6 separate regions of the Homo sapiens genome follow, and regions 2, 3, 4, 5 and 6 are each reported to be linked to region 1. Evidence: microRNA targets listed by miRTarBase, many of them from high-throughput screens and not tested one by one. Region 1 holds a microRNA gene; each other region holds the end of a gene's coding sequence.

The links. Region 1 holds the annotated microRNA hsa-miR-6884-5p (AGAGGCUGAGAAGGUGAUGUUG, at 2,068-2,089, shown strand). A microRNA usually pairs through its seed, bases 2 to 8, with sites in the 3' UTR of a target mRNA and lowers its output. Matches are read on the target gene's strand: a 7mer-m8 pairs with bases 2 to 8, a 7mer-A1 pairs with bases 2 to 7 and ends in A, and an 8mer does both.
Region 2: miRTarBase lists RABAC1 as a target of hsa-miR-6884-5p. The part of its 3' UTR that is shown has no 7-base or 8-base seed match.
Region 3: miRTarBase lists NACC1 as a target of hsa-miR-6884-5p. Seed matches in the 3' UTR shown: 7mer-m8 at 575-581 and 7mer-m8 at 939-945.
Region 4: miRTarBase lists UNC93B1 as a target of hsa-miR-6884-5p. Seed matches in the 3' UTR shown: 7mer-m8 at 2,748-2,754.
Region 5: the mRNA of CCL22 is a reported target of hsa-miR-6884-5p. Seed matches in the 3' UTR shown: 7mer-m8 at 1,534-1,540, 7mer-m8 at 1,669-1,675, 7mer-m8 at 1,858-1,864, 7mer-m8 at 2,036-2,042 and 7mer-m8 at 2,632-2,638.
Region 6: miRTarBase lists MUC20 as a target of hsa-miR-6884-5p. The part of its 3' UTR that is shown has no 7-base or 8-base seed match.

The regions. Positions count from the first base shown.
Region 1 is chr17:40,025,324-40,028,471 of GRCh38, reverse strand. It overlaps MIR6884 (microRNA 6884), which reads left to right and starts at 2,063; the gene lies at 2,063-2,140. MED24 (mediator complex subunit 24) reads left to right here. Exons shown (of 26, transcript NM_014815.4): 15 at 526-563; 16 at 1,007-1,089; 17 at 1,438-1,616; 18 at 1,726-1,825; 19 at 2,141-2,316. It overlaps SNORD124 (small nucleolar RNA, C/D box 124), which reads left to right and starts at 827; the gene lies at 827-930. RefSeq lists an enhancer at 915-1,825.
Region 2 is chr19:41,954,334-41,957,481 of GRCh38, forward strand. RABAC1 (Rab acceptor 1) reads right to left here. Exons shown (of 5, transcript NM_006423.3): 4 at 2,685-2,786; 5 at 2,350-2,601. The coding sequence ends at 2,513. Among named protein-coding and RNA genes, the nearest start is that of RABAC1, 3.4 kb to the right of the region's middle.
Region 3 is chr19:13,137,839-13,140,838 of GRCh38, forward strand. It overlaps NACC1 (nucleus accumbens associated 1), which reads left to right. Exons shown (of 6, transcript NM_052876.4): 6 at 309-3,000. The coding sequence ends at 568. Among named protein-coding and RNA genes, the nearest start is that of STX10, 11 kb to the right of the region's middle. RefSeq lists an enhancer at 1-40.
Region 4 is chr11:67,988,770-67,991,917 of GRCh38, forward strand. It overlaps UNC93B1 (unc-93B1 regulator of TLR signaling), which reads right to left. Exons shown (of 11, transcript NM_030930.4): 11 at 2,331-3,088. The coding sequence ends at 2,777. Among named protein-coding and RNA genes, the nearest start is that of UNC93B1, 14 kb to the right of the region's middle. RefSeq lists an enhancer at 2,463-3,068.
Region 5 is chr16:57,363,062-57,366,061 of GRCh38, forward strand. CCL22 (C-C motif chemokine ligand 22) reads left to right here. Exons shown (of 3, transcript NM_002990.5): 3 at 443-3,000. The coding sequence ends at 527. Among named protein-coding and RNA genes, the nearest start is that of CCL22, 5.8 kb to the left of the region's middle.
Region 6 is chr3:195,732,950-195,736,097 of GRCh38, forward strand. MUC20 (mucin 20, cell surface associated) reads left to right here. Exons shown (of 4, transcript NM_001282506.2): 4 at 201-602. The coding sequence ends at 269. Among named protein-coding and RNA genes, the nearest start is that of MUC20, 14 kb to the left of the region's middle. RefSeq lists an enhancer at 2,171-2,671.

The DNA of each region.
Region 1 (3,148 bases):
TCCATTCAGTGAGCCATTCTCTAGGCCTTGGAAATCTTCTAACAATAAAAATCCTTCTGGCCGGGTGCGGTGGCTCACGCCTGTAATCCTAGCACTTAGGGAGGCCAAGGTGGGCGGATCACCTGAGGTCAGGAGTTCAAGACCGGCCTGGCCAACTTGGTGAAACCCTGTCTCTACTAAAAATACAAAAAATTAGCCGGGTGTGGTGGCGGGCACCTGTAATCCCAGCTACTTGGGAGACTGAGGCAGAAGAATTGCTTGAACAGAGGCGGAGGTTGCAGTGAGCTGAGATTGTGCCACTGCACTCCAGCCTGGGTGACAGAGCGAGACTCTTTCTCAAAAAAAACAAAAAAAAAACAAAAAACAAAAACCACAAAAACCTTTTTTCTATAGCAATGTGTCTCATTTTAAGTTTAACCAGTAACTCAGACTCTAGCTATCGCTCTCTGAACATGTGTAGCCCCAGCGCCCAGCTACTGCTCAGCTCATGCCCTGGTCAATGCAGCCTGTCTCCATTCCTTTCAGTTTGAATGAATTCACAACCTATGGCAGCGAAGAAAGCAGTAAGTCAGCCCTGTGCATCCGCAGGCCCAGTGGGCCCTGAGGAGGGGTGTGGCGGGAGAGTGTGGGAGGGAGGAGGGCTCCCCAGCTCAACAGGGGGAGGCTGTGCTCCCTCCTCAGAGCCATGACCAATGGAAGCTTCCACAGAGCTTGAAAGTGGATAATGCTGGAAAAGGATTCTTCCCAGACCATCCCTGTGTCTCCTTCCCCCCCTCATCCCTTTACGACTTGGTTAGGTATGCCAGGAGAGGGTGCTGGGGGTCTTTGGTCTCAAGGAAGGGATGATGTTCCAGTTGAGACTCAAGAAAAGGATTCTGAGCCTCAGAGCTTTGAAGGAGCCACTTGGTCCCTGACCTTCCTAGAGGCAAATCCCGATCCCTGTCAACCCAGACACGGGCTCCCCCCTGCCCTCGTCTGGGAGCTCAGCCTTCCCGTCCTTCCACAGCCAAACCGGCCTCCGTCCGGGCCCTGCTGTTTGACATCTCCTTCCTCATGCTGTGCCATGTGGCCCAGACCTATGGTTCAGAGGTGAGAGAGGGGAGCGACCGGGACGGGGGCTCAAGGGAAGGAGGTAACCCGGAACTCTCCCCACCTCACTGCCTGCGCCCCCGCAGCCTCTCAGCCAGTTAGTTCTGTGGGCCTCAGAAACCAGGTGCCCACCCGGGCTGGAGTCCGTAGAGGCACCTTCAGCCCTATGTTCACATTGACCACTAGGTGGCAGCATTGCCCCCGTCTGGCTCCCTTAGACCAGTTCGTCCCCAGTCTTTGGGCTGGGCTGGAGCAGCAGCCTGGCGGGAAACAGTGCAGCCCCAGGTCCAGCGCTGGCAGGCGCCGCGCCCTCCCCACTCGGCTGGTGCCCCCCTTCCCCTTTCCCAGGTGATTCTGTCCGAGTCGCGCACAGGAGCTGAGGTGCCCTTCTTCGAGACCTGGATGCAGACCTGCATGCCTGAGGAGGGCAAGATCCTGAACCCTGACCACCCCTGCTTCCGCCCCGACTCCACCAAAGTGGAGTCCCTGGTGGCCCTGCTCAACAACTCCTCGGAGATGAAGCTAGTGTCAGTGGCCCGGGCGCCCACTCCAAGGGTGGCGGTGGGGGCAGGGTCAAGACCCGCTCCCTGAGCCCGTTCCTTGCTCCCCTGTGCTGACTTCTCTGCACACCCGCAGGCAGATGAAGTGGCATGAGGCCTGTCTCAGCATCTCAGCCGCCATCTTGGAAATCCTCAATGCCTGGGAGAATGGGGTCCTGGCCTTCGAGTCCATCCAGGTAGCCCCGCCTTCCCAGCAGCGTTTGCTCCCCTGAGACACAGAGCCAGCCAGTGATGACTTGTTATATTTCGTAAGGGCAAGAAGACCTTTAATCCAGGAGCTCATGTTTTGATATTGATATTTTGTGTAATCGTTGTCTTAGCTACTCCCTCTGGCCCAGGTAGCTCTGGGAAGATCAAACTTGTGGAGAGAGGTGTGGAATGTGGCCCGGGACTCCACCCGCTGCACTTAGCTGCCCGCAGAGGCTGAGAAGGTGATGTTGGCTCAAGAAAGGGAGATAGATGGTAGCCCATCACCTTTCCGTCTCCCCTAGAAAATCACTGATAACATCAAAGGGAAGGTATGCAGTCTGGCGGTGTGTGCTGTGGCTTGGCTTGTGGCCCACGTCCGGATGCTGGGGCTGGATGAGCGTGAGAAGTCGCTGCAGATGATCCGCCAGCTGGCAGGGCCACTGTTTAGTGAGAACACCCTGCAGTTCTACAATGAGAGGTCGGTAACCTGCCTTCCCTTCTCAGACCCTTCAAGTGTGTTGTGAGAAGTCAGCACATCCAATAACAAGCACCCCTCTCTTTTCTGACCTTCGCAAACACGCTACTTGATCACTCACTCACTTTCCTATTCATGCATTCACTCATCTGACTCAGCAAACATGTACTGTGTCTCTGTGGCAGAAGCGTTTATATGCCAGCACCTGCTGTGTTGTCAGAAATGCAGACCCTAAACAGGGTCTGCCCGCAGAGACTCAAGTTCTAGACAACTAGCTCCCAAAAGAACAAAGCTGTGTGACTGTCTAGGAGCTAGGAACCTGTCTGTAGATTTTACAGGCCATGCCCCACCCTCAGTTACCTCTTAGGACAGTTTCCTGCCCTGGCTCTTCAGGGGCTTGGAGGACTTCCCTGGTGACCAGTTACGTTGAGTTCATTCACCCAACCAATAAGTTGTTTGCTTTTTTTAATTGTAAAAAACACATAAGATTTGCCATCTTAGCCATGTTTAAGTGTACTGTTCAGTAGTGTTAAGTATATTCACACTGTTGTGTAACAGGTCTCCAGAACTTTCTTGCATCTCTGAAACTCCATACCCACTGAACAACAGCTTCCTATTTTCCCCTCCCTCCAGCTCCTGGTAACTACCATTTTACTTTGTGTGTCTAGGAATTTGACTACTTTATACTTTTTGTTGTTGTTGTTGTTGAGACAAGGTCTTACCCTTGCCCAGATCAGAGTGAGTCTCACTGCAACCTCAAATTCCTGGGCTCAAGTGATCCTCTCGCCTCAGCCTCCCGAGTAGCTGGGACTGCAGGCCCACAGCCGGCTAATTT
Region 2 (3,148 bases), not on the chromosome of region 1:
AGAATTCCAGAACAGTGGGCATCAGTGGGCTCTGGGTGAGCACCTGCTGCATCAAGGATGAGTGGGTGAGTTCTGCTGAGGAGACACGAGGTTGGAGAGGCTGCATCCCTGAGGCCTTGGCACTCGCTGTCCCTCTCCTTGGGAAACTCCACCCACTTCTTGTGTCTCCTCAGAGAGCCCTCCCAGACCACCCCTATCTAAAGTAATTGGCGGGGCACGGTGGCTCACACATGTAATCCTAGCACTTTGGGAGGCCAAGACAGGTGGATCACCTGAGGTCAGGAGTTCGAGACCAGCCTGGGCAACACAGTGAAACCCTGTCTCTACCAAAAATACAAAAAAATCAGCCGGGCGTGGTGGCAGGCGCCTGTAATCCCAGCTACTCGGGAGGCTGAGGCAGGAGAATCACTTGAAACCGGGAGGTGGAGGTTGCAGTGAGTCGAGATCGCGCCATTGCACTCCAGCATGGGCAACAAGAGCGAAACTCCATCTCAAAAAAATTAAAAAATAAAACTAAAAATACAAAAATTAGTCAGGCGTGTTGGTGGGCACCTATAATCCCAGCTACCTGGGAGGCTGAGGCAGGAGAATAGCTTGAATCTTGGAAGTGGAGGTTACAGTGAGCCGAAATCACACCATTGCTCTCCAGCGTGGGCGACAGAGAGAGACTCCATCTCAAAAAAATAAACAAATAAATAAAAATAAAAAAATCAAGTCACTTCTTAGGCCCTCTCGGCCACCTCCCTTGTCTTCATCTGCCTGGCACTTTCCCTCCCAAGTGTGTTTCTCTTTTGTTACTGCTACCACGTGGCAGTCTCCACCTCATGATGAAAGGCAAACTGGACCCGGCACGGTGGCTCATGCCTGTAATCCCAGAACTTTGAGAGGCTGAGGCAGGAGGATTGCTTCAGCCCAGGAGTTTGAAACCAGGCCAGGCAACATAGTGAGACCCTGTCTAATGAAAAGTTAAAAAAAATTAGCTGGGTGTGGTGGCGTGCACCTGTGGTCCCAGCTGCTCAGGAGGCTGAGGTGGGAGGCTCACTTGAGCCCAAGAGGTAGATGCTGCAGTGAGCAGTGGTCACACCACTGCACTCCAGCCTGGGCCATAAAGTGAGACCCTGTCTCAAAAAAACAAAAGGCAAGAAGCAAACTGGGCTGGACACAGTGGCTCACACCAGTAGTCCCAGCACTATGGGAGGCTGCAGGGGGAGAATCGCTTGAGCCCAGGAATTTGAGACCAGCCTGGGAAACAAAGCAAAATCCATCTCACAAAAGCAAACTGTGTCTTTCATCTCAAGCAGAGTAAAACCCAAAGCCCTCACCGTGGCCCACAAGGCTCCCTGGCCTCCCACACTGTCCCCCTCGCTTATCTGCCCCAGCCACGCCCACCTCCTGGCTGCCCTCGAGCCTCCTGGCTGCTGCCATCTCCCAGGCTATGCCCCTGTGGCTTCCTCTGCCCCAATTATTCTTCCTCCAAAGGATCTGGGCTGCTCCCTCTCTCAATTTAGGTCTTTGGTGAATGTCACGTCAGGGAGGCCTTTTCTGGTCACCCTCTTTAACCCACAACTCATTCCCGAACTTTCTCTGTGCAGAAAAGAGTTAACCTGGCAGGCTCCACAACAGACTGCTGTCCTTAGACAGGCCTGGGTGCACAGTTGGTCCTTGGCTGGGAACTTGGGTGTTGGGGGGGGGGTCTTATCACTTCCTGATAGAGTGGCTCGCTGCATCTATCTAGGCTGTTCGTGCAGGCCTAGAGTGGCTTGCTGCATCTATCTAGGCTGTTCGTGCAGGCACAGGCCTTCTTTCTGGGAGCCTGGCATTTTGGTATATGTTGGAGAGAAGGTGCTCTTGTGGCCGCCCCCATGAAACCAAGGGCGCTGAGGCTAGGATCAGAGTGTCCCTGGCTGACATTTCACACGTCACCATGATCCACTGCTGGAGGAATTAGGTGTGGCCTCTGGAAGTGCATGCCTGGTTTCCCGAGTTCACTCCATGCACCTTTCCTTTTGGCTGACTTGGCTCCATACCCTTTGATGAGAGTAAATCAGAGCTGTGAGTGCAATTGCATACTGAGTCCCCAGTCCCAGAGAACCATCAAACCTGGGGTGCTCTCTGATTCCTGAGTCCTAAAGAACCATCAAACCTGGGGGTGGTCTCGGGGACCCCCGGCACACTGTCCTTCTCAACTCTTTTCTCCTCCTGAACACTCACCACCATTGGGCATCCCATAATATTTTACCTGTTTACCTTGTCATCGTCTTGCCCACACCCCAGGTTCCACCCCAACCCTGCTCTGTGCAGTATTCCCAGCTCCACCCATAGAGACCCACAGAAGATGCTGGGGGAATATTTCCTGAATGACACCCATAACAGCTTTATTTTCAAAGGCGGGATCCCTCCCCGGGCTTGTGATGGGACGGCGCTGTGGGCCCGAGCAGCAGAGCCGTGCAGGACAGGCATGGGCAGGGGTGGGGCAGCTGGCCCGGGAGGCCGGCAGGTCCCAGAAGACACCTCACACGGGTTCCATCTGCAGCTCCTCCCCGTCCACAGCCTCAATCTGGTGGAAGGCAGCGTGGGAGCCGATGACCACCAGGGTGGCTCCTGCAGGAAAGCCGGCAGCTCAGGGCCACACTCCTGCACCTGGCTCCCACCATCCACCCCAGCTGCTCAGACCCTGTACTCACCCAGCACCCAGAAGACGGCCGAGCCCGCACCAGCCAGCCAGAAGAAGGGGAAGGAGATGCCTCCAGCCAGAGCATACTGATGCGCTGGGCTCACCTCTCGGCCTGGGGGCAGATGGCATTGGGGTGCTGTTCCGACTCTCCATGCCCTCTCCCAGAGTAACCCCTGCTGCCCCCCAACAATCCGTACAAGCTCCAGGTTCTCGGGATCGAATCCAAACTCCTCATGCCAAGGCCCTCCAGGTCCTGGGGTCACCCTGTTCCCCTGCTGTCCCCACTGCCCTCCAGAACACAGCACACCGTCCTCGCCTGCCTCAGCCCCACCCTCTGCCCTCTGCCCCACATCCTCCAGGAAGTTCCTGGGATCCCGGCTTCCTGCTCCCTAGACTAGGGCTCTCCTGCTGCAACCCTCGCGCAGACCAGGGTCTCAAACTGGTGGCCCAAGGGCCAAATCTGACCTGTGGATG
Region 3 (3,000 bases), not on the chromosome of region 1:
ACAGTGCTAGCCACTCGTCATGGGGGGCATCTAGATTTTCAAGTGACCACTCCCCGTTACTAAATTCTGGCAAATGATCCGAATTTTTCAAGAACACGGGGCCATCCCATCAAAACCAACACATCCCCACACATGGCTGAACTCAGTCCGGTGTAGGGTTGGGTGCACGTAGTGTGGTGTCCTGGCCGCGTGGCCTCACTCGTTTCCCCTTTGAGAGGGAGTCGCAGATGCTGTAGGGGAGCTGGTGAGTAGGCCTTGTGGGAGTCACCTGGCCCCCGTGCCAAGGCCGCACCCACCCTGCCCCACAGACTACTGCCAGAACTTCGCCCCCAACTTCAAGGAGAGCGAGATGAATGCCATCGCGGCCGACATGTGCACCAACGCCCGCCGCGTCGTGCGCAAGAGCTGGATGCCCAAGGTCAAGGTGCTCAAGGCTGAGGATGACGCCTACACCACCTTCATCAGTGAAACGGGCAAGATCGAGCCGGACATGATGGGTGTGGAGCATGGCTTCGAGACCGCCAGCCACGAGGGCGAGGCGGGTCCCTCGGCTGAAGCCCTGCAGTAACCCGCCCAGCCTCCCGCGGGGCCACACACTTCCCCTCCCAACACACACACACACCTGCCATCTTGGTCATGAGCTACTGTCTGTCCCTCCCCAGGACCCGCGGTGGGTGCTGCATGTTCCCGGCCCTCTGCCCCTCCTGTCCTACCCCCTTTCCCCACCGAGAGCTGGGCCGGGAGAGGACCGCAGGGCAGGTGGCGTGAGGTCCGTGTTGCCTTCTTTAACACACACTCGTGCAGTGGGGGAGTTCTGGCTCCCCAACCTAACCCCTAGCCGTCATCTCCACACTCACCAGGCCCACCAGGGGAGGGGGCTGGCCTGGGGGTCTTGGGAAGGCCCCTCCCCAGGCCCTAGGCCACCTCGCGGAAGCCTTCAGCCTCCGCCCCTCACTGCAGCCCCTTGGGACTTGAGGGGGGCCCCAGGGGTTCTCAGGACCCCTCCCACCACCTCCCAGTGCTTCCACGTCTCCAAAAGCGCCTTCCTGTCACCCTCGTCTATCCCTGCGCCTGGGGGCTGGGGTAGGCGAGGCCGTGGGGACTACCCATTTTATAGCTGGGGAAACAGGCTCCGAGAAATTGCACAACCGACCTCAGGTGGCCGGCAGTGGCGTGCCTGGTGCCCTTTCTCCTCTTCCGCCTCTGTTGCTCCCTTTGGTCCTCTGGGGCCTCAGAGAGGCAGGTCCTAAAGGAGGGGGGGTCTCCTGGGGGCAGACCGAGGGTCTCGGAGGATAGAATGAGAGGTTTCCAGGGCTGGCAGAGTGTGTGCGTGTGTGTGTGCAGAAGTTTTGCTTTCAAACAAATGAAGATACAAGAGGCAGTAGGACCTGGGTTGGAACCCAGGGGAGCAGACTGGGGGGCTGTTGCCCCTCCCTCCATCTCCCCACACCCACCCCACCCCACAGCAGGGCTCCTGGCCCCCACCCCCCTGTACATAATTTTTAAAACCTTTTTTTAGCGAATGAAATATTGAAGTATAAGATTCCTTTTATTTTTCAAACCAATGGGGCTGTGTCTATTGTCCCCCTCGGTCCCCAGGGGTGGGGGGCCTTGGAAGGCAGGGCGGTGTTGGGGGGCTGGGGGGCAGGCTGAATGTGTGTGTGTGGGTGTGTATGTGTGGAGTGTGTGTGTGTGTTTCCATGGTAGGACTCCAGTCCCAGCTGCTGCCTAGGCTCCTGTGGGTCCTGTGGGTCCCCCTCCCCTGTTCACCTTCCCCAACAGGGCTATAGTTTAAGGGTGTCCCAGGCCTTGGCTGGTTGGCTGGGCCCAGCTCCTGGGGGCTGGGCAGGGCAGGGCAGGGCCGGGTCCACTTCCATTGTTAGCAGTTGTTTGCAGAATTTTCTCTTTTACCATTCCTCTCTTTTTGTTCTCGCCCAGAGTGGGTGGTTTTTTGTTGTTGTTTTAGATTTTCATGTGAAGGCAGTTTTTTTTCTTTTTTAACTCCCCATCCCCCTATGCAGGGTGTCATTTCACCATCCACATCCACATCCTTGTTTGTGTTTCTGGCCCTCGTCCTCCCTGCCTCTCATCTGCCTCCCCAACCCCCACCTACCCACTGCTCCCAGGGGTCTCTCCAGGGGCAGGGGGATTTTAGGAGATGGGGTGGGGGCCAGCCCCTACTGGACCCTTGTAATCTGATTTGGAGACCATCCCCCCGATGGGACCAGCAGCCCCGCCGGCCCACTGGGGGTCCCTCTTAACATCTGCTTGTTGCGGGGGTCAGTCATGAGTGCCAGGGTCTGGCTGGGGTCTTGGCACTGTCTTCCTGGCCGGGGCCTGAAACCTTAGCCCCCAGCCGGCCTGAGTGGGGGATATTGACACCCCCAGCTAAAGCACAAGCACCTTAGTCACCCCTCCTCTCCCCCCGCCTCCTGGCCTGCCACCCCACCCCAGCGTTTACCCCAAAGCACAATGCCCTGGTCACTTGGCAAGCGGCTGGGCCTGACGGAGGCCGAGGGGCAGACCGGGGCTCCAGCCAGACCCCTGAAAGGAAGGTGCTCCCCCACTTCCAGGCCTTAGTTGGGGTGGGGGGGCCAGCTCCTGGGCCTGGGGTCTTCTCACCCCCACCCCCTTGTCCTGGGTAGGCCCCTGCCTGCCCCTCTCTGCCTTTTCCTCGGGTGTCCCTCCTCGAGCCCCTGTGGCATTGGCTTGGGTGGCAGAGCCCACTTGTTTCAGGGACCCCAGGAGGTGCCCCCTGGCTCCCAGGACTGTGTGTGGGTCCGGGGGGTGGGGGGGTGGGGAGAAGGGTCGGGCAGGGGGTGCAGGGGAGGAAACTCCTCACCAGGAGAGCCAAAGACAGGGTTGTGCCTTACCCCAGGAGCCACCCCTGTACCCCCCTTGCCCTGCCATTCACCCTCCACCCCTACCCCTGGGCGGCCTGCTGCTTTTTCCTTCTCTTCCTCCCCTGCCCTGAGCTGCATGGTTCCCCCACCCTGGGCA
Region 4 (3,148 bases), not on the chromosome of region 1:
GCGTGATGGCTCACGTCTATAATCCCAGCACTTTGGGATGCCGAGGCAGGTGGATCACCTGAGGTCAGGAGTTTGAGACCAGGTTGGCCAACATGGTGAAACTTCGTCTCTACTAAAAATACAAAAAAAAAATTGCCTGGCTTGGTGGTGGGCGCCTGTAATCCCCGCTACTCGGGAAGCTGAGGTAGGAGAATCGCTGGAACCCAGGAGATGGAGGTTGCAGTGAGCTGAGATCATGCCATTGCACTCCAGCCTGGGCAACAAGAGTGAAACTCCGTTGCAAAAAAAAAAAAAAAAAGAAAAGAAAAGAAAAGAGAAAGAAAAAGAAAAATCCCCACAGTGCAGATCGACAAAATCACAGAGTTGCTTTGGGAGCGAGGGTGGCAATCAGACACGGAGGCCATGACACAACCTGCTTATCCACTCAGGGGTCCAGAACCTCCACCCAGTCACCTTATCCGGGGGTGATGGAGACAGGGGAGGTGCCACCTACGCCAGTGTCATCTCTTACAATGAGCTCTTCTCCTGCTCGAAAAGAGCCAGCCTGCTGAGCTTGCTGCCAGGGCCCGTCGCACTGCCTGCGCTGTGTTGCCCGTCGCACAGCCTGTGATATGTGTTTCCCATCATGTGTGCATGTGTGTTGTCATGTAGTGTCTGTCACAGGTGTTACCCGTCACGTGTGTTTGCATGTTGCATGTGTGTGGCCTATCAGGTGTAAATATGTGTTGTCTGGCACATGTCAGCATCTGGGCATTCTCCGTGTGCCAGGAGCAGCCAGGTGGCCTGTGAAGCCTTCTCATGGGAAATGCCCAGATAGGAAGAGCACAGCCAGGAGCCAAGCCCCTGAGTGGCCACTCCATGTGCCTGGATCACCTTCAAGTCTGCTCAACATCACAGCCTCTGTTCCTTGGCACCATGGACATTGGAATTGACTCGGAACTGGGAAGAGCTGTAGGCCCACTATCCAGGCACCTGCTCCCCGTTTGCCCAGCATCCCAGGGGCCCACACCCTTCCAAATATCACCTTGCCCTCCATTCAGAGGTGAATCATCTGAGCGTCAGGTTGCCCAACTCCGACTGGTTTTGCTGGAGCCTGCCTAGAGGATGTCGCCAGCCACCTCCAGAGAACACTCAGTCTACAGATGCCGAGGGGGAACTGGAAGCACACAGTGCTGGCCTTCACCCAGGTTATGGTGGCACCTCGGGACCGCTTCTGAGTCTGCTTGTCACTGAAGGTCGGCGTGAGGCAGGCAGCGTTCCCTCCCAGATTTAGAAAATGTCAAGTCTCCCGCCGCACCCTTTTGTGTTTCTTACAGGGCCTGGTGCGCTTGCTGCCGCCACACTAAGGGCTCCAACATGTTCCCTCACACACTCAACAGAGAAGGAACCTGTGGCTCAGATGGCAGACTCCCTGTCCAAGGCCACAGAGTCTGGCCCCAGGGACCACTAGAGGCTTCAAGAACCAAACTCACATGAGGGCAGAGAGGAGAGATGGGGCCAGTTTAGGGCTGGGAGAATCCATAGAGCGATGCTGAGGCAGGCATGGAGCCTGGAGGTACGGACGAGGGTCTCGCCAAAGTCAGGGGTAAAGAGGCTGTGGGGAGTGAGGAATGGTGTGGGCCAGCCCCGGGCCTGCTGGGGTGCAGCTGGGGGCTCCATGGCCCTCCCACGGCCCCCACTTGTCCTCACCCAACCGTTCAGAGCTCTTCATGGCGGGGGTGTCCTCTCCTCTGGCCACAAGAGGAGCGGGTGGAGGAACGGCACCTTCAGGCCTTGTAGGGGGTCTGCCCCTCCACCAGCCTGTTTCTCGTGGGCATCGCAGCTGAGGCTGTAGCCGGGAAAGGGTAGTCACCGAGCGTACCTGGCCTCCAACCACCACTTCCAAGGCCCCTACTGGGCACAGGGTGACCCCACCGTGGCTCGGAAGTGGACCCTGTCCGACGCGGGGGTGGTCGCTGGAGGGCGGAGGATGCCTACACAGGCCTCTGGAGGGTGTGTCTCGGGAGTCTGTCTCGCCCTCTGGACCCATGGGGGACCAGCAACGCCGTCACACCCTCCTCTGTCTCTGCCAGCCGCTCCGCCGCTCCCTTCTCCTGGCTGGGGCTGGCAAAGGCAGGCAGGTATGGGGGGGCGGGGCCTCAGGAGGGAGGAAGGGCTGGTGGGCGGGGCCTACGGACACCTCGCCCCGCCCCCAGTAGGGCGCGGCACTCCCCACACCACGCGGTCCCCCTAGGTCAGGGCCTGTCACCACTGCGCCCAGAGGCCGGGCCAGCCGTGCGTGCATCCCAGGGCATCCGTGCATCCGTCCCCCGCGGCCTGGGACTCCCCAGTCAGGACAGTACAAAATCTCTTTATTGCTCATTTTCTGTAAAAAATCGTGGCTCTCGGCGGACCCTGGGGATAGGAGGTGCAAAGTGCGCTCACACGCGGCCCGGGTCCGCGGCCGAGAGCTGTGGGGATCTGGAGCGGGCCGGGTCGCAAGAAGACCCTGACCGTGCTCCGGCGCTGGGGCGCGTGCTAAGGGCCCGCGGGGTTTCAGCTGTATTTTCGAACCCCTGTGCTTGGCCGAGGGGTTCCCAAGGCTCCACTCCGCCTTGGAGGGGGCTGCGGAAGCCCGGAGGTGACCTGGGCTCTGGGAGGGGCGTCCCCAACGTGGGGGAGGGGAGACAGGGGCCTTTGAAGACAGCGCGGGACTCGGAGGGGGTCCCCCCGACCTCAGACGTGGTAAACTGAGGCCGGCGAGGAGGGAGGCTGAGTCCGGGGACCAGGCGGCCCCTCACTGCTCCTCCGGCCCGTCTCCCCCCTGCGCCTGTTCGTACGGGCAGGGCCGGCGGCCGAGTCCAGCGGGCTCGGGGCCAGGCCTGGGCCCTGCGGGCGGCGCCTCCTCCTCCGCGCCGTCCCCATGCTCGCCCTCCGCGTCGCTCTCGTCCGAGTTGTCCTCCTCCAAGTAGCGGTAACCGCGCACCTTGTGCTGGGGCCGCGGGATGCGGGGCTGGCGCGGGGCCACGCCCCGGCGCAGCTTCTGCTCCATCCGCAGGTAGGAGACCGCGGCCGCCACCAGCGTCACCAGCAGCACCGCCAGCTTAGCCTGGGCGTAAGGAGAGGGATGCCAGGGACCCGCGGCCGCCTCGCCCCGCACCTTCCCCGC
Region 5 (3,000 bases), not on the chromosome of region 1:
CTGGGCTCACTGCAGCCTTGACCTCCTGAGTCCAAGCAATCCTCCCACCTCAGCCTCCCAAGTAGCTGAGATCACAGGCAGATGTCACCATGCCTGGCTGACTTGTACGTTTTTGTAGAGACAGGGTTTTGCCATGTTGCCCAGGATGGCCTTAAACCCCTAGGCTCAAACAATCCTCCTGCCTCGGCCTCCCAAAGTGCTGGGATTACAGGCGTGAACTCCTGGCCTCCTCTTCCTCCTGAGAAATATTCTTTTCACACCACAGGTGGCTTGTAAATTTTGAACCACTCTATTTAGCAGATAATGTCATATGTAGTAGGTGACTCATAAATGCTGAGCCCTGCATAAAGTAGGTGGCTCATAAATGCTAAGCTCCCGAGGGTGTGGCATCCTTGCTGCGTGCTAATGTTGCTGCATTGTCTCTGGGGTCTCCTTCTTCCAGGTTGCTAACCTTCAGGGATAAGGAGATCTGTGCCGATCCCAGAGTGCCCTGGGTGAAGATGATTCTCAATAAGCTGAGCCAATGAAGAGCCTACTCTGATGACCGTGGCCTTGGCTCCTCCAGGAAGGCTCAGGAGCCCTACCTCCCTGCCATTATAGCTGCTCCCCGCCAGAAGCCTGTGCCAACTCTCTGCATTCCCTGATCTCCATCCCTGTGGCTGTCACCCTTGGTCACCTCCGTGCTGTCACTGCCATCTCCCCCCTGACCCCTCTAACCCATCCTCTGCCTCCCTCCCTGCAGTCAGAGGGTCCTGTTCCCATCAGCGATTCCCCTGCTTAAACCCTTCCATGACTCCCCACTGCCCTAAGCTGAGGTCAGTCTCCCAAGCCTGGCATGTGGCCCTCTGGATCTGGGTTCCATCTCTGTCTCCAGCCTGCCCACTTCCCTTCATGAATGTTGGGTTCTAGCTCCCTGTTCTCCAAACCCATACTACACATCCCACTTCTGGGTCTTTGCCTGGGATGTTGCTGACACCCAGAAAGTCCCACCACCTGCACATGTGTAGCCCCACCAGCCCTCCAAGGCATTGCTCGCCCAAGCAGCTGGTAATTCCATTTCATGTATTAGATGTCCCCTGGCCCTCTGTCCCCTCTTAATAACCCTAGTCACAGTCTCCGCAGATTCTTGGGATTTGGGGGTTTTCTCCCCCACCTCTCCACTAGTTGGACCAAGGTTTCTAGCTAAGTTACTCTAGTCTCCAAGCCTCTAGCATAGAGCACTGCAGACAGGCCCTGGCTCAGAATCAGAGCCCAGAAAGTGGCTGCAGACAAAATCAATAAAACTAATGTCCCTCCCCTCTCCCTGCCAAAAGGCAGTTACATATCAATACAGAGACTCAAGGTCACTAGAAATGGGCCAGCTGGGTCAATGTGAAGCCCCAAATTTGCCCAGATTCACCTTTCTTCCCCCACTCCCTTTTTTTTTTTTTTTTTGAGATGGAGTTTCGCTCTTGTCACCCACGCTGGAGTGCAATGGTGTGGTCTTGGCTTATTGAAGCCTCTGCCTCCTGGGTTCAAGTGATTCTCTTGCCTCAGCCTCCTGAGTAGCTGGGATTACAGGTTCCTGCTACCACGCCCAGCTAATTTTTGTATTTTTAGTAGAGACGAGGCTTCACCATGTTGGCCAGGCTGGTCTCGAACTCCTGTCCTCAGGTAATCCGCCCACCTCAGCCTCCCAAAGTGCTGGGATTACAGGCGTGAGCCACAGTGCCTGGCCTCTTCCCTCTCCCCACCCCCCCCCCAACTTTTTTTTTTTTTTATGGCAGGGTCTCACTCTGTCGCCCAGGCTGGAGTGCAGTGGCGTGATCTCGGCTCACTACAACCTCGACCTCCTGGGTTCAAGCGATTCTCCCACCCCAGCCTCCCAAGTAGCTGGGATTACAGGTGTGTGCCACTACGGCTGGCTAATTTTTGTATTTTTAGTAGAGACAGGTTTCACCATATTGGCCAGGCTGGTCTTGAACTCCTGACCTCAAGTGATCCACCTTCCTTGTGCTCCCAAAGTGCTGAGATTACAGGCGTGAGCTATCACACCCAGCCTCCCCCTTTTTTTCCTAATAGGAGACTCCTGTACCTTTCTTCGTTTTACCTATGTGTCGTGTCTGCTTACATTTCCTTCTCCCCTCAGGCTTTTTTTGGGTGGTCCTCCAACCTCCAATACCCAGGCCTGGCCTCTTCAGAGTACCCCCCATTCCACTTTCCCTGCCTCCTTCCTTAAATAGCTGACAATCAAATTCATGCTATGGTGTGAAAGACTACCTTTGACTTGGTATTATAAGCTGGAGTTATATATGTATTTGAAAACAGAGTAAATACTTAAGAGGCCAAATAGATGAATGGAAGAATTTTAGGAACTGTGAGAGGGGGACAAGGTGGAGCTTTCCTGGCCCTGGGAGGAAGCTGGCTGTGGTAGCGTAGCGCTCTCTCTCTCTGTCTGTGGCAGGAGGCAAAGAGTAGGGTGTAATTGAGTGAAGGAATCCTGGGTAGAGACCATTCTCAGGTGGTTGGGCCAGGCTAAAGACTGGGATTTGGGTCTATCTATGCCTTTCTGGCTGATTTTTGTAGAGACGGGGTTTTGCCATGTTACCCAGGCTGGTCTCAAACTCCTGGGCTCAAGCGATCCTCCTGGCTCAGCCTCCCAAAGTGCTGGGATTACAGGCGTGAGTCACTGCGCCTGGCTTCCTCTTCCTCTTGAGAAATATTCTTTTCATACAGCAAGTATGGGACAGCAGTGTCCCAGGTAAAGGACATAAATGTTACAAGTGTCTGGTCCTTTCTGAGGGAGGCTGGTGCCGCTCTGCAGGGTATTTGAACCTGTGGAATTGGAGGAGGCCATTTCACTCCCTGAACCCAGCCTGACAAATCACAGTGAGAATGTTCACCTTATAGGCTTGCTGTGGGGCTCAGGTTGAAAGTGTGGGGAGTGACACTGCCTAGGCATCCAGCTCAGTGTCATCCAGGGCCTGTGTCCCTCCCGAACCCAGGGTCAACCTGCCTACC
Region 6 (3,148 bases), not on the chromosome of region 1:
CACCTGCTTTATAAGGTTGCTGTGAGGTTTAGATGACATAATGTGTGTGAGGCACCAGCCTGTGTCCAGCATGTAGGAGGCCCAGGAAGGGTTGCCGTCCTCCGCATGCACTCTGCCCCAGTGTCCCTTCCTGTCCTCTGCCTCTGGCGAGCTCATGGGCCAGATGGGCTGAAAGGACAGCTGGCTCTTTTGCTCTCCAGCTCCACCGGGAACTCCACGCCCACGCGCCTCACTTCCAGGTCTCCTTACTGCGTGTCAGGAGAGGCTAACGGACATCAGCTGCAGCCAGGCATGTCCCGTATGCCAAAAGAGGGTGCTGCCCCTAGCCTGGGCCCCCACCGACAGACTGCAGCTGCGTTACTGTGCTGAGAGGTACCCAGAAGGTTCCCATGAAGGGCAGCATGTCCAAGCCCCTGACCCCAGATGTGGCAACAGGACCCTCGCTCACATCCACCGGAGTGTATGTGTGGGGAGGGGCTTCACCTGTTCCCAGAGGTGTCCTTGGACTCACCTTGGCACATGTTCTGTGTTTCAGTAAAGAGAGACCTGATCACCCATCTGTGTGCTTCCATCCTGCATTAAAATTCACTCAGTGTGGCCCAGAGGCTGTCTATTGATCTGCATGCTTTCGCCATTTTTATAGTACAGGGATTGTGTATAGTCTCACTGCTACCTCCTCCTTCTACTCCCCCAGGTCTTGGTTTGGACTTTGATGATAGCATTTACTGAGACGGGCCTGGAGCCTGTCGAACAGCCCGCTGCAGCAGGGCAGGGACCACCTTTGTTCATCTCAGTATCCCCTGAACTAGCAGAGTGTCTGGCCTGCAGTGGGATCGCAGAGAATGTGGAATTGACCTAAATTTAAATTTCAAGTTCTGGACACAAGCCTCAATTATTCCTCTTATATGTTATAACTTACATGCTATTATTTTTTTAAAAAATTAATATGGTTTACTTTTTATTATAAAAGTAAAACTTGGCCAGGCTCAGTGGCTCACGCCTGTAATCCCAGCACTTTGGGAGGCCGAGGCCGGTGGATCACGAGGTCAGGAGTTTGAGACTAGCCTGGCCAACATGGTGAAACCCCGTCTCTACTAAAAACACGAAAATTAGCTGGGTGTGGTGGCAGGTGCCTGTAATCCCAGCTACCCAGGAGGCTGAGACGGGAGAATCACTTGAACCCGGGAGGCAGAGGTTGCAGTGACCCAAGATCCTACCACTGCACCCCAGCCTGGGCAAAAGGGCAAGACTCTGTCTCATAAATAAATAAATTTAAAATAAAAGTAAAACTTGTTTATGATTTCAAAATTTTGAAATATTCCAAAGACCAAGCAAAGTAAGAAGTGGGAAGAGGAGAAAGAAAAACTTTTCTATAATCCCACCTCTTAGATACAACGATTTATTTTTTAAAATTGAGACAGGGTCTCACTCTCACCCAAACTGCAGTGCAGTGGTGCGACCATGGCTCACTGCAGCCTCCACCTCCCAGCTCCAGTGATCCTCCCACCTCAGCCTCCTGAGGAGCTGGGACCACAGCTGGCTAATTTTTGTACTTTGTTTTGTAAAAAAGGGGCTTTACCATGTTGAGCAGGTTGGTCTCGATCTTCTGAGCTCAAGCAGTCCTCCTGCCTCAGACTCGCAAAGTGCTGGGATTACAGACATGAGCCACTGTGCCCAGCCTTATATACAGCTATTATTATTAATGTATACTGTGTATTCATTTCAATTCTTAATCTCTCCACTTGGATGTTGATGAAATACATACCTCACATTCAACATTTCTTTCTTTTTTTTTTTCTTTTTGAGATGGAAAGGAGCCTGGCTCTGTCACCCAGGCTGGAGTGCAGTGGCGTGATCTCAGCTCACTGCAAGCTCCACCTCTTGGGTTCACGTGATTCTCCTGCCTCAGCCTCCTGAGTATCTGGGACTACAGGTGCCACCACCATGCTCGGCTAATTTTTTGAATTTTTAGTAGAGACGGAGTTTCACCGTGTCAGCCAGCCTGGTCTCAAACTCCTGACCTCAAGTGATCCACCCACCTCGGCCTCCCAAAGTGCTGGGATTCCAGTTAATGAGCACTGCTCCTGGCCTCCACATTTCTAAAATCGAAGTTCTGATCTTTTCCTCTGGACCTGCCCCACCTGCATCTTCCCCATCTCAGTTAACGTCAGTTGCATCCTTCAGGTGCTCAGGCCGAAATCCTCGGCACCGTCTTTATTCCCCTCTCACATTTTGCACCAGGAAATTCTGCTGGCTCTAAGGCCATCAAACTGTGCCCAGAATGTGGCCCCTCCTCAGCATCTCCAGTGCTACCACCGAGATGGTCCACGATGCCATCATCTCTCACCTGCACTACTACAGGTCTCCCTGTTTCCAGCTCAGCCCCCACCCCAGTCTAGTCCCAGTGTGTCAGCCAGGGCTGTCTTTTTACAACATAAGGCAGACCACACCACTTCTTTGCTCCAATCCTCCCATTTCACTCAGAAGAAAAGCTCCGACAACAGCTGCAAAGCCGTGCACGACCTGCGCCCCTCCCCTGCCTCCTTAATTTGCTGACTGCACCGCAGCCACACGGACGTCTTTCTTGTCCCTTGAATGCGCTGGGCCTGCTCTTGCCTTGGGACCTTTCTGTGCATTGCTTAGTCTGCTCAGAAGCCTTCTCCTCTACATATCCACTTGTCTAAACCCTCTACCTCCACCTTCATGCCCCTTCTCAGCGAGGTCTACCATGACCATGCTGCCTACAAATTCAGTCTCCCCTTCTGTACTTTGACGTACTTTATAGTGCTGATCACAATTGAACGTCATACATATTTTGTTTTCTTTATTATCTGAGTCCTCCAACTAGAATGAAAGATTTTGCCCATTATGGTTTCCCTAGTGCCAAGAACAGTACCTGGCACATACCAGGGGCTCAGTAAACATTTGTTAGATGAATGAAGGAAACAAGGAGACAATGTTGATGCTGCTGTGAGCAAGGGGAGTCTGAACGTTTGACAGATCCCTTCCATTTCTGGAGTGGGGCAGAATGAGTTTCATAAAGTAGCTCGGACAAAAATAATTCGCTCATCTTGGCATATATGTTGGGCAGCTGCCGCAGAAGAGAGACTGAGCTATGTGCCGTGGAGGATTCAAATCTGTCTCTTCT